2 separate regions of the Homo sapiens genome follow, and region 2 is reported to be linked to region 1. The links are microRNA targets in miRTarBase. Many come from high-throughput screens and were not tested one by one. Region 1 holds a microRNA gene; the other region holds the end of a gene's coding sequence.

The links. Region 1 holds the annotated microRNA hsa-miR-6513-5p (UUUGGGAUUGACGCCACAUGUCU, at 5,352-5,374, opposite strand). A microRNA usually pairs through its seed, bases 2 to 8, with sites in the 3' UTR of a target mRNA and lowers its output. Matches are read on the target gene's strand: a 7mer-m8 pairs with bases 2 to 8, a 7mer-A1 pairs with bases 2 to 7 and ends in A, and an 8mer does both.
Region 2: miRTarBase lists FNDC3B as a target of hsa-miR-6513-5p. Seed matches in the 3' UTR shown: 7mer-A1 at 4,553-4,559.

The regions. Positions count from the first base shown.
Region 1 is chr2:218,274,813-218,281,930 of GRCh38, forward strand. MIR6513 (microRNA 6513) reads right to left here and starts at 5,376; the gene lies at 5,313-5,376. All of the region lies in intron 2 of PNKD (PNKD metallo-beta-lactamase domain containing), which reads left to right. TMBIM1 (transmembrane BAX inhibitor motif containing 1) reads right to left here. Exons shown (of 12, transcript NM_022152.6): 3 at 5,214-5,314; 4 at 4,477-4,541; 5 at 4,226-4,279; 6 at 3,703-3,753; 7 at 3,123-3,162; 8 at 2,821-2,858; 9 at 2,554-2,641; 10 at 2,192-2,287; 11 at 1,214-1,267; 12 at 1-809. The coding sequence ends at 663.
Region 2 is chr3:172,396,622-172,403,730 of GRCh38, forward strand. It overlaps FNDC3B (fibronectin type III domain containing 3B), which reads left to right. Exons shown (of 26, transcript NM_022763.4): 26 at 543-5,048. The coding sequence ends at 854. Among named protein-coding and RNA genes, the nearest start is that of GHSR, 48 kb to the right of the region's middle.

The sequences.
Region 1 (7,118 bases):
TTCCATGCTGGCCTGTATAGGTTACTTTGCTCGTTCTGTTATCTGTCCCCCATCCCTAACCCAGATAAACAATACATATGTCACTGAAACAAGAAGGGATTGAAGCAAGGAGACCCATGGGCACAGATCTCTTCTACCTTCCTGAGCTAAAAGATGCCAAGCCAAAGGAATACAGGATAATGGCCTATGTGTCCAGGAGGCCGGGGACAAAGCTCTCTGGCTTTGCTGGGGGAAGAAATAGCTCCAACTACGTAGTCAAGAAGCCTGTGACAGAGGTGGGAGGGGAACCTCGTGACCTTGAAGTCACTTCTACCTTTCATATTCCCTTCTAGCTATCGAATAGGCTCTTTTCATATTCCTCACAACCCCAGCTGTTAGGAAGAATGTGGTGTCATACAGTAGGTGGCGGGGAGAAGACACATCTTCAGCCTAGTCCCTGCCAAGCCCACCAAGAGCAACAGTTAGTCCCTAGCTCCTCCGTCCCCACCAAGTACCCACACATCCATAGCCAGAGAGGCCACCTGTCTCCAGGACAGAAAGGAAACTGGGCATGTTACTCAAGGGGAAGGAAAGGGGCCTAAAGCCCAGACCACAGTCATAGGGCCCAGCCCTCTAGCTTGGAAGGGAGAGCCCAGGATCGGGTGAAAATGGGGGCTTGCTCCTTAATTGCGATCCCCCATCAGCTGCAGCACAAAGGTGAAGATGTAGATGATGTCTGTGTAAATCTGCAGGGCGCCAGTGATGTAGTCCTCGGGGCTGATGGTGTGCTTCCGGTTCCCCAGGACCAGCTGTGTGTCGTAAGCCAGGAACTGCAAGGATAGGGAAGCCAGAAGTGAGAACTCAGGCATCAGTGTCCAGAGCTCATTTTTGGTCAGCAGATTTGTCTTGGGGGCCTATGCGCCACACAGTGCTTAGGGCCACATTAACGCACAGCATAACATATGGGCTCTATACTGTAGCTGCTCACAGTCTAGGAAAGGAGGCAGACACACCGTTCTCAATATGGCTGACTAGTGTTCTAATAGCAGGCAGCTTGAACAAGAGATGGCAAGAGTGCCCACAAAAATCAATGGAATCTCTGGACAGTAGTGAGAGGAATGGCCTGCTATGGCCCCATTCCCTGCCTCCCAGGCAGTCTAAATTCATGCCCCCTTCCCTAGATTCCTCCCCTCATCCCCTCAGCTCCCCTTCCTAGAGTGGGGCTGGGACTTACCAGGGTGAAACAAATGGCCCCCAGAGCAGCATAGAGCATGTGGAGCCAGTAAACCTGGAGAAGAAGGGGACAGAGAATGGCATTAGAAACCTCAGCAAACCACAGGCCCACAGGCCCCAGCTTCCCCCGGGATAGTGGCATGAGAGTGGGTAGAGCTGGGAAGCTAGCTCTCCATGAAAGGCTACTGCCTTTCCAGATCTTGGAGGAAATTAAGACTGGTGATATATCCAGCAGAGAAAGCAGAGGCCATCCTGCAATGGCTGTATAAAACCAATCTCCAAAGCCAGTCAAGGTACACAAGTGTCTACTATACTTCTAGAAAAAAAGCAGTTGAGTTACAGCTCTGAAAGGGGCAGACCCAGCATTCAATAGACCAGTTCCTACAGCCCAGCCTGGGAGGGGTAGACTAAGGAAGAAGGGAGGCCCCCCAACCCCTCTGGTGAGTATCAAAATCCGGGAGCACCCACAGGACAGCCCACATGACATGCCCACAGGTGGCCGTCCACAGAAGGACAGAGCTGGCCCATGGGCAGGCAGCCCTCGTGTCCCCATCCTTCCCCTTCGGCACTGTTCTCCCCCAGCTGAACAGAATAAAGGAAATAATTGGATCCAGAGACCCCCGCAAGGTCCCTTCCACCTAGGCCCATCATCTCAGTCCTCTGGGTTCCTCTCCCAGTCTGCCTCCGAGAACCTGATTCTCAGCTGCCAGCCAGATTGAACCCACCCCTTCCCCTAGGAGTGCAGTGATGCAGTCCAGGGCTTCAGGTGCTCTGGCTCCAAGGCCGCCCATCTCCACACAGAGAGTCTACCCTCACCCAGAAGGATGCTGCCTCCACGTTGGTGCCTTTGCTAGCCAGTCGAGAGGTTCTGGAGGTCAGAGCCTGCCCCGGGGACCTTTGGGGCCTGCGAGACCATGCTATATAGGAAGTCTGCCCTGAGCACTGGGTTCCCTGACCCCAGCTCTCCTGGGACACTCACGTATTGGAAGTAGAGCACAATGCTAGTGACAATCCCAGTCACCAGGAGCACAATTCCCAGGACACAGAAGAGGCCTGTGCACGAGGTGAAGTCCACCTGCCAGGAAGCAAGAAAGAGGCACCTGTCAGATGGCTGTGACAACCAGCCCAGTCAGACTGGCCCTGCCAGGGAGTCCCAGTGCTGCCTCCTAGGGGGTATGGGAATGTCCACAACATTCTAAGGACAGAAACAGGACACAGTTTTGTAGGTGCGGATGAGGAGAAGGGGATCAGGTCTCTAGGGAACATCCCTAGTGTGCCGGGGTCCGGGCCTGATAAGAAAGGGGAGTCGGGGGGCCAGGGAAGGGCCCTCCATGCCCTCACCTTGGTCTGAAAGCAGAAGATGGTGACTGAAATGGATACCACCGCAGTGATGATCATTGCAATGATGACGGCTTTGGTTTGGTACATACTGGGGAGAAGCAGGAGTTACAGACAAGAGGCATTAAGCCACGTATGAATGACTTCAAAATCACCACTTCCAGAGGGGACCTGCCCAGAATCCACCCACGCAGCTGGCTGCCGGCCCAGGAACACCCCACTCCCCACAATACACATTTCCCAAGAGTGGTGCTTTATCCCTGAATGTACCTGGAAATGGTGCCCGTCATGAAGCCCATGGCAAAAGTCTAAGGGAAGGAGAGAGACAAGAATGAAACACTTAAAAAGGAAGGAAGGCAGGGTGCTGGGGGAGTGGCCATGGTGGCCTCTGCCAGAGCTGGGGAACGCCACCAAGTTGGAAAGAGGCAGCCACAGAGGAGATCAGAACAGGCGGCCCAGATAAGGTGGAGGAGACAGCCAGGACATCCTTCTGAAATGGGTCCCCATCCCTTCCCTGGGAGCAGTCTCCCTCACAGCATCTCCACACCCTCCTGCCACCCTTCTAGACTTACAAAAAGGGTCAGCAGAATGATGTTCCATGGGAAACGGCGTCTGAAGGGAAAGAGAAGCCTTGATTAAATGACTTGGGGCCCCTCAGGCGTCAGAGGCTCCTACAGCAGAAGGAAGCGCTTGGCTCCTGTGCCTGGAGGATTAAGCCTTGACTCCAAGGAGGGAGGTTGGCATGGCCTTTGGCACCTGTTCAGGTGTGGTACGCAGGGACAACATGGGCCAATGAGACAGACCTGTGTTGTGGCGCCAGAAACACCTGGATTGGTTTGCAACTCTTAAACTGACTGCCTGTGTGATGGGGAGAAAGTTACTCAGCCTCTTTGAGCCTCGGGTTCTTCCTATTTGTTAACTGGCTAAAATGCTACCTGTCTTGCAGGGTTACTATAAGAGTGACAGCTAGTTAGCTCCTAAACACACATGGTCCTTTGTATACACCTGAACAGTAGCTGTCATCGTCATCCTCCTCCTCATTTCTTGTAAGTTTCCATTCAGCTGCTATAAAGGAATCCTTCTTTCCAAAATACTCGGCCCCCATCCCAATCCCTGTCACCCCTCTCACTGTGTTAAGTCTCTGGGACTCACCTGGGTCCCTGGCAGCAGGCAAGGATCAGGTAGGTGACAACGAAGACAGCACTAGGGACAAAGAGATGGGGAAGCAGTTCAGGCCCAAATCTGCCCCGCTTGGCAGCACACACCAGGCCAGTGATTTGGGGCCCAAATAGCCGTTTGGAAGTCTGAGGGGAAGCAACTCAACAGGAAGCAAGAACGAGATTACCCCCAGCCAGGGTCACTGAGATGCTCTGAAGCACCAGGCTCCGGCCAGGAAGGAGGTCTGGGGAGGCTGCAGCTGACGGGCTGAGAGGACATGGGGGCTGCAGCGCAGCGTGCACGCCACCACCAGCAGGTCCCACTCTTGCTCTCGAGTTCTAGGGGTCTGCTACTCATCTGGGCACGCACACCCACACCCTCTGGCACGGGAAACTGGCACCAACTTGGGGGCCCTCTCAAAAAGCATTTTGATCCTGCCCTGAGCAAAGCTGGTCACCTAGAAACAGAAGCTGCCACCCCTGCCTCCCTGCCCAACCACAGAGGAGCACACACTCACTAGGACACGTAGTAGACAGCCACATTTCTCCTCACAAAGGCGCTGACAGGTTCCCTGTGGGGCACAGGAGGACAGGAGTAGTCACCCTGAGGCTTGTCTGCCCCACCCAGGCCAGCCAGGCAGCCCTGGCTTCACCTTCTCTAATTGCCCATGGTCACCCTGAGAGCAGGGCCCACCGCCACCCACACCCCCAGCAGGTGACCCTGAACCCCCAGGGCAGTAGGAGTGGGTGGCAAAGCCTAGAGACTTACACAAAGGTGAAGATAGCAATGATGGCCACAGTGATGAGCAGCTGCACGGAGATGATGGAGTAAACCTGGACACAGACGGCCGGGCATGGGTCACCATCCGGCACCCCTGGCCTGCCCCAGGAAGCTGCCAGCCCCCAGTACTTTCCTCCCACTCAAGAACCCTCCCTAGCTGCAGCCTGGCCCAGAGGCGACCCCAGTGAGATGCCTGGCTCAGAGGCAATGTGCACTTCTTCCTCAGCCCCGCTCCCATGCTCCCTGCCATCTCCCCTCCTGTCCAACACCAGCCTCGGTGACTACTGACTTGCCCTGCCTGGCCACCATACTCTACCAGTATGGCCTCTGCACTCCCAGCAGCTCAGTCTGCACGCTCTATGCAGCTGTGAGATGGAGAGGGTGGGTTACAAGCGAGTAGGATCATTTCTGGCTCCAAGCTGCCTATAGTCTAAAGGGAGAAAGATGTCTGGGGAAGGCGGGCGCTGTGGCAGAACCCACCTAGGAGATTCTCCCAGACTGAATGTGTCCTCCCAAAACATGGTCAAGAAGAGAGGTGCAAAAAGAGAGGGAACCCTGGGGTTAGAGAAGCCAGGTGCCCCTCTGAGAAGCAGACAAGGCTAGAGAAGACAGGCAGCCAGTGTATTTCATGGAATTGATGCCCTGGGGCTACTGTGGCCTACCCACTTCCCATTCCCACAGCCTGAGGGGCCCCAGGTACACCCACCTCCCAGCGCGTATCTTACCTTTCGGATAAAAGTGTGTCGCACTTTCCGGTCATCCCACTCTCCAGGCCCGAAGCTATCACTCACTGCTCTCTCCTCCCCATCATAGCCATGGCCTGGGCCTAGGGACAGATGACACTTGACTCAGCTGGGGACCTGAGACATGTGGCGTCAATCCCAAAGCCTCCCTGACAATCTCAAAGTCTCAGGGATCTCCAGCCAAAAGACAAGTGTTATAACAGGAACTCTTCTCCCAAGCTGGGGTCTTCTAGACACCCTCAGAGTGACCCAGAGCCGGCCTGTCACGAGGGGGCTTAGGTGGGAAACGTTCCTCACGTGCATCTGTGGAGGGCTCCTGTGTGCCCAGCCCACGCCACTGGGGGTTCACTGGGGGGTCACGATGTAGTGGGGAAGCCAGGCAGGAGCAGGTATGGGCATCCACTGGGGCAGCCAGCCAGGGCAGAACAGGGGATGGGGACAGAGGGTAGGAGAAAAGGAGGGCGGCAGAGCGCAGTTTGTGCAGCAGCAGGGATAGAGGTGAAGACAGGGATCTGCATCAGCCTCACAGAGGCAGGTGTGCAAAGGGTGTGCGTGACTGTGCAGGACCCATGCGCAGATCCGCACCAGCGCACATGTCCAGGTGAGAGCTGGCTGACACCCCTCTGGGGTTCAGAGATGCTGCAGGGCTGCAAACATTCCCTGAATGCCTGAATGCCTGAATGCCTCTTTGGGAACTACTTTTAAAATCCACGCTTGAGCCACCCAGGAAGACTCACTGCACTCTAACTTCACCTCATTTCCTTTTTTTTTTTTTTTTTTTTTTTGAGATGGAGTTTCGGTCTTGTTGCCCAAGCTGGAGTGCAAAGGCGTGATCTCGGCTCACCGCAACCTCCACCTCCCGGGTTCAAGCAATTCTCCTGCCTTAGCCTCCTGAGTAGCTGGGATTACAGACGCATGCCACCACGCCCGGCTCATTTTTTGTATTTTTGGTAGAGACAGGGTTTCACCATGTTGGCCAGGCTGGTCTCAAACTCGTGATCCGCCCATCTCAGCCTCCCAAAGTGTTGAGATTACAGGCATGAGCCACCGTACCCGGCCTCTTTTTTTGTTTTGTTTTGTTTTTTGTTTTTTTTTTGGTTTTTTTTTTGAGACAGAGTCTTGCTCTGTTGCTCAGGCTGAAGTGCAGTAGTGCGATCCTGGCTCACTGCAACCTCCACCTCCTGGGATTGCAAGCGATTCTCCTGCCTCAGCCTCCTGAGTAGCTGGGATTACAGGTGCACGCCACCACACCCGGCTAAGTTTTTGTATTTTTAGTGGAGATGGGGTTTTGCCATGTTGGCCAGGCTGGTCTCGAATTCCTGACCTCAGGTGATCTGCTCGCCTCAGCCTCCCAGAGTGCTGGGATTACAGGCGTGAGCCACCGCGGCCGGCCTCACCTCATTTCTGACCAAACACAAGCATGTCCCTGCCATGATGTTTACCAAACTTGGCTCCAAATGTCTTTTGCAAAAGTCAGATTTCACTTTAAAGGATGAGGAAAGTGGTTCAGGTTCCCAAAGGAGTTCCTAAGGAAGTCGACAGGTCTGGGAGGTGGCAGCAGCTTGTTGGCCGCTTGTTGGGAAACAGAGCTGGTGCCCTGAGGTAACCCCTCAGGAGTCATTACTTGGCCCAGCCCCATTCTCCTGTGGTGTGTACGTTCTGGGACATGCCTCATGGATCTCCTTGAACAAAGGGGGCAGCAAGTGGCTGGGGGCCAGTTGCTGAGGCAAAAAGTGGAGGGTAACAAAGACAGAAACAGAGGGAGAGATCTCAACAGAGAAGATGAGAAAGGGATTTAAGGGAAACTAGAAGAGAAAAGGGGCAGGAGGCGGTGGCCTCATCTGCTCCAAGTGCTGTCCCTCCCACCCACCTTCCATCTGCCCTTCC
Region 2 (7,109 bases), not on the chromosome of region 1:
TACTGCCTGAGCTCTGCCTCCTGTCAGATCAGTAAGGCATTAGATTCCCACAGAAGCATGAAGCGTATTGTGAACTGTGTATACGAGGGATCTAGGTTGTGCACTCCTCATGCGGATCTAACACCTGATGACCTGAGGTGGAACAATTTCACTTTGAAACTACCCCTGTCCGTGGAAAACTTGTCCTCCACAAAACCAGTCCCTGGTGCCCAAAAGGTTGGGGACCGCTGACCTAAATTATTAAAATTTAGTGAGATGCATCCTTACTACTTAAAATGTCAGCTGCATTTCTAGTCAGTGCCTTATCTCCTTCTGTCAAAGTTCGAGTCACTGGATTTTATATTGTTTCATTCAAAGTGTGTTGGAATACCCTTTTTATGGTTGGAATACAGATTGAGAGAAGTACATTTTTATATCATCTTTGTTATAAGAGTGAATGTGAATATAAACCAAGAGTGAATGGAGTGAATCTAAACCAAGATTCTTCTAGAGACAACAGTGTTGCTATAAATTAATTAACTAGGACTCTTCTTTTCCTGAAGGTGTACAAGGGAGAAGAAGCCACATTCCAAATCTCAGGCCTCCAGACCAACACAGACTACAGGTTCCGCGTATGTGCGTGTCGTCGCTGTTTAGACACCTCTCAGGAGCTAAGCGGAGCCTTCAGCCCCTCTGCGGCTTTTGTATTACAACGAAGTGAGGTCATGCTTACAGGGGACATGGGGAGCTTAGATGATCCCAAAATGAAGAGCATGATGCCTACTGATGAACAGTTTGCAGCCATCATTGTGCTTGGCTTTGCAACTTTGTCCATTTTATTTGCCTTTATATTACAGTACTTCTTAATGAAGTAAACCCAACAAAACTAGAGGTATGAATTAATGCTACACATTTTAATACACACATTTATTCAGATACTCCCCTTTTTAAAGCCCTTTTGTTTTTTGATTTATATACTCTGTTTTACAGATTTAGCTAGAAAAAAAATGTCAGTGTTTTGGTGCACCTTTTTGAAATGCAAAACTAGGAAAAGGTTAAACTGGATTTTTTTTTTTAAAAAAAAGAAAAAAAAAGAAGAAAAGTATACCAGATACCAAAAGCTAGCTTTCTTATGTTTTCCTTTAAATTTTCAGATTTACCTTCATTCTGTTTTCACTGATGTCTTTTGCAAGCCTTTGATTTTTTTTTTTTTGTTACAGTTTAGTAATTTATATTCACCAGTCACTTCATATGTCTTGAACATCTGTATCTGTAAACATGAATCACCGTGTGTGTACTTACAGGGCTAGGATTTCAGTGTTGTCAGAGTATTACCACACAGCAACAGCAACATACAGAAGATATGTTCACTCAGATAAGACTGCCCTAAACAACCATTTTGTCACTCAGTTATTTAACTGTGTTTAGCTCATTTAAATCAAAATGTGTACTTTAATCTAAAATGTTTTAATAATCTGTATTTCTTATAATTTTAACACTATGAGCTGCCTGTATAAGAAATCAAGTAACCAGAATGCACCTATAAATTATGGAGCATTGTAGATTTTACCACATCAATTCATAGCAGTAACTTTAAGAGGGCATTGTGCAATAGTTAGTTGTTTTCTTGTTCAGCTATTTTAAAGGCTGCTTTAACTTGTTTGTTTGTCTTTGTATATAACTACTTCTAATCTAATCACTAGAGTTATTATATTCTGTTATGTTTGACCAGAATTATATGACAAGAACTGGTGACAGTTTAGTGCCTCTGCCCATTGTCCATGATTTACACTAATTGTGAGCAGTCTTCTTATGTGTCAGCTCATTATTTTTGAAACATTTGCCTTTAGGCTGTTCTTTGAGGTATCAATGAAGTGATTGAATTTCAATACCTTAATTCAGTGCACATAATACTAATGTAACAGCAGATGAAAATTGATAAAACCCAAAAGAGAGTCATCTAAATTTGTAGTTCCTATTTCTGTGGGTTTGCCTGGCCATGGTTGGAGAGGGAATGGTGTTTGATGGTAAACACAGGGTGTTTGGGGATCAAGGAGCCTAGATTCTCTCCCTGGATCTGTCACTAACTTGCTGCGTGACCTGAACACGTCACTTTACCTCTCTGTGCCTCAGTTTTCCCATGCATGAAAAATAAAATAAAATAAAACGGGGATTCTAATGTTTGTAAGTGCTTTGAGATCTTTGACCAACAGGTGCTATTGGAGTGCAAAGTGTTACTCTTACGTGTTTATTTTGAGTCATGAGATAATCAATTTTAACCCAAAGTCATTGGATTATTTATATGAAGTCCATAATGTTCGAGTACCTCAGGGACATTTAAGAGTTGGAGGTGCAAATATATTCCAAAAGGGTGCAACAGACACAGTGTATCCCCCTGCTTCTGTTTTTGTATATTTTTGCTACTTGGTTTTTCTTGATCATAGCTATTTTGTGCTTGATCTTTATTGTCTAAGATGCAGTATCCTGTACTAGCTTATAATATTCCCATACCAAAGTCATGGGGAAACAAACATTATTTTGTTTTTGGTTTATTTATACTATATTCTGCATACAGTACTTTAAATGCCAATTACAGTGCAATCTTTATTTATTGTAAAATTTTTTAAGTGTACTTATGTACTAATTTTCCCTTGTAGCATGTTATATTTTTGTGTTTTATACTTTTGTAATTTTAGGTCAGTCTTGTTCCTTGGCAACATCTGTAGTATTATTAATCTTCTGACATTTTCTTATGTTTTTAAAAAGATAAGAGCATCTAGTGCATTAAATGCCAAAAAAAAAATACATTATCAGTGATTGAAACGTTTACATGTACCCAAAAACCATAATCATCTCTTGGAAGAAAATGCTGAGATCAATGAATTATTCTGTGTGCCTATATTGACGTAGTGAGTACTAGAGAGTTCTGTATTTTATTATTGACTATAATAATTAGTTTAATTAGCTTTGCAAACTGATGGCATCAAGGTAAATATATTTTTGCCAAAGTTCTGGCCTTCCAAAACTCACCCCCTTATTTAAATGTGTGCTATGACCCACTATGACCACAGCATCTGCATTTTCTAAAAAATTCCATGCAGGTGTTTTGGGGAGAGGTATTTTTTAAGCAATGAAAATTCAACTGAGTACAAAGCCCCCTCTTGGGGGGTTGGGGAAGTCTCTTTTTTGAAACACTTCAGAACTGCTGCTATAAAGAAATTCTCTAATTGGTTGAATTTTTTTTTTAAGTAAATAGTACTTTAGGCCAAAATTTATATGAATATTTGATCTTCTTGAGATTTTCATACTATCATTTAACCACCAGGAAGCTGAAGTGTGTGAAGTACAAAGCTGACAGCACTTTATTTTATTGCTCTCCATTATTTGGTATTCATTATATTCCTTCAGTCAGAAAATTATTACTCTCTATGGCACTGTTTTTTATCACAAATATGTATATGTGATATTGATATATAACTATATATATTGCCATCACACACGAACAATAAAATAAAGTGTTCTATTAACCTGATCTCTTTGCCCTTTTGCTATGTGAGGAGTGAATGAGTGGCCTTCTGATGCTCTGACTCTTCTCTGTATGTCAAACTCATCCCTGGCACAAGAAATTCCAGTCATGTGAAGCAAACTGCCCTTTGTCCTCAAAGAAATTGTTGAAAAAGAAAACTTTTTAAAGAGATTTTTTGCATATTCTCTGCCTTGTTCTTATCAACTTGAAATGTTGGCATTTTCTAACCTTGTTTTGTTGGCTACAATAATTCAGTATTCATGTCAAAATTGAGAAGTGCCCTAATTGAATGTGTTTGAATGTTATCCTTGCACAATTCTTTAAATTGAAAGATAAAATGTTTTACCTCACTGTTGGACATACATTCCAAGCTTTTCAACTCTAGGAGAAAAAGAAAATCATGTTTTCCTGTATTGTAAATTTTAGACTATTTCATATACATTGTATTAAAACTGCCATATCAATTTTAATGTATAGATTTTGCAAATATTATGCTATATGTAATACCTAACTGTATCTGTAGTGTATATGTAATATATTTATGCCCAATAAATGTTTTAATTCTTTCTGACTTAAATAGGGTTTTTCTGCCATGACTAGGATTGCTTTTGTTGTTGTTGTTGTTGTTTCTTTCTTTTTTTTTTTTTTTGAGACGGAGTCTTGCTCTGTCGCCAGGCTGGAGTGCAGTGGCGCGATCTCAGCTCACTGCAACCTCCAGCTCCCAGGTTCAAGTGATTCCCCTGCCTCAGCCTCCCAAGTAGCTGGGGATTACAGGCACTCGCCACCATGCCCGGATAATTTTTTTTTTTTTTTTGAGTTGGAGTCTTGCTCTGTCGCCCAGGCTGGAGTGCAGTGACCCAATCTCGGCTCACTGCAAGCTCCACCTCCCGGGTTCATGCCATTCTCCTGCCTCAGCCTCCCAAGTAGCTGGGACTACAGGTGCCCGCCACCACGCCCGGCTAATTTTTTTAATTTTAGTAGAGTCGGGGTTTCACCATGTTGGCCAAGATGGTCTCGATCTGACCTCGTGATCTGCCCGCCTCGGCCTCCCAAAGTGCTGGGATTACAGGTGTGAGCCCCCGCACCCAGCCTTATTCTTCCCTTTTAAATACTTAAAGCACATTCAGATTAGTTGAAAATTCACGTGTTTTTGGAGGCCAGGCAGGTGGCCTTCTGCAGAGACAGCAGCAGCTCAGCTCTTGCTGACCAAGGCCTTGGAGGACTGTGAGCCACAATCACATATGTCCATGTTTCAAAAGAAGCTAAATATCCAGATTTCCTCCATGGGCCAACTAAAAGGTGATTGTGGACTATACAGGCTGCCAGTTTAATCCTTTATCAGAGTCTCTGTGGATAATGTACCTTGTTGCCTAATACTTTATCTGTCTACCAAAACTCAGTCCAGATCTCCCTCTGTTCACCTGGCACACTGGGTGCTTCCTCTCCCCTGACGAACTCTATAGAGTGTTCATGTCCTTTCCTGCAGGTCTCATTCAACAACAACAACAACAACAGCAATAAAACACAGTGTTCCTGCTATGGCCATGGTTTTGTGATTTTAGATTGTCTTAGTAGGAATTCCCACTATCTCTTTTATTTTTCAGGAAAATGGGTAAAAAAAACTGTCACTTTATTGAACCTCACTTATATGAAGCATGGTAATTATTCTGGGTAAAGATGACAAATTGAGCACATCAAATTTTGAATGCTCCTGACACCACTAAAAGTAAAGGATTTTTTATTTTTTTAAGTCACAACTCAACCCTCAAGACTGGGAAGAAAGAGGAGTTATTGGCACCAGAATTTTGGAAATATGATCAACAAAACTTAATTCTAATTTGGCAGAGGAGAAAATGAGCATCAGTGTTTTTATTCTCAATGCAGGATACCCTAAAGGCTCAAAAATTGACAGCAACATATCCCTTTGAAGTGATAGTGAAGAGAGAGAGGAGGCTAAAATAGTATTGGTTGAAAGCTGTTTAAAATGCAGTTAGATCAATAAAATCCCTCCCCCTTTTTTTTTTCAGCTGGACAAAAATGTCCCTCCTCCCCACCCACCTCCATCACTCTTGCAGAAGCCTAGAGGTGTATCCTCAGGAGAAGGTTCAAATAGAAAGTCCCTGGACTGGGAGACACGATCCACAGTTGAGAATGAAGGCACCATATCAAAAGCAAATTAGTGAACATAGGCTTATGGAAGAACATTACAAAGAGCCTCATGGGCTGGGAACAACAAAAAAGAAATCTAAAAATCTAAAAATCTTCAATGAAATGGTTCAGCCAGAGCACTCTTGGGTAGTACTTTTCAACCTGTACATTAATATCACCTAGAGAGCTTTTCAAAATTCTCGTACCCTACACCAATAAAATGAGTATTGCAGAGGCATCAGTATTTTTTAACACTCCCCAGGCGCTTTCACTGTGTATATGAAATTGAGAACCATTGCTGAAAAGTGAAACTCTCAGTCAGCAATCCCCTATCAGCTTTTTAGTCTTTCATCTTAACCAAGGATAACCTGATATCTGATGAAAGTGTCTAACGTGGATGAAAAGCCCAAAACCAACAACTTGGAAGAATCAGAGACTACATGGAGAAGAAGCTTCAAAAACCTGTCATATCTCCAGAGAGATGAGAAAAGAAAAGGCATCTGTAGAATAAAGATAGACTACTATAGAAAAGGAACTGTTAACAAGAAAATGTTCTTGGAAATTAAACATTCGGTAGCATGGTTGGAAGCTGAAATTTAGCAAATAACCTGAAAATTTGAGGAAAAAAGAAAGGAAAAGATTAGGATCAGACCAGGACCATTCAATATCCAAGTAATAGGAACTCCAGAAAGAACAGAAAGTGGAAGAGAGGAAATCGTTAAACACATGAGTTTCTAGAATAATAGGGTATGGGAGCACACAACACAATGGATGAAAATAGGACTTGTACTAAGGCTCGCCATCTTGAAGTTTCAACACTAGAGAACCTCCCCAACATGAAAAGCTGGTCACATAGAAGGATTGGGAATCAAGCGTGGCGTTAGACATAAGCAGTTGCTTCAAGATTTTGAAAGAAATATAATAGATTTCTCGCCTGCCTACTCTCAGTCAAGTGTAAGCTACCACGAAGACATTTTTTAAACTGGAAACTCCCACAAGTTTGTCTCTCATGCACCTTTTCTCAGGAAGCTACTGGAGGATAAGCTTTCCCATATAAGTGAATGAATCAAAGAAACATCTATGAGATTCTGTTTCCAGTGCTTTTTATTTAGGTCAGAAGTTGGCTCTCTGACCCTATGCCACGAGAGGATTTATGCAACTATCACGTTCTTACCCTTTCCCCATCCCCAATTGACCTGAGTGCACACATACATTTCCCTAAACAGGAGGAGTGTAAAAATGAGCCTTTTAAACAAATCTCTCAGGGTATTTTGCCTTGAGCCAATTAAAATCAATAGTTAAATTTGTCTACAGATACCCTTTATTCAGGGTGACAACTGAAAAATAATTCCCACCTCCACTGCTAGACTAGTACCTCAAAAGCTGGGGGAAGGGAGTGTGTGCATGGGGCAGCAAGCCTCATTTTAACTTTGCAGCATCTAGCACATTTTCTGGC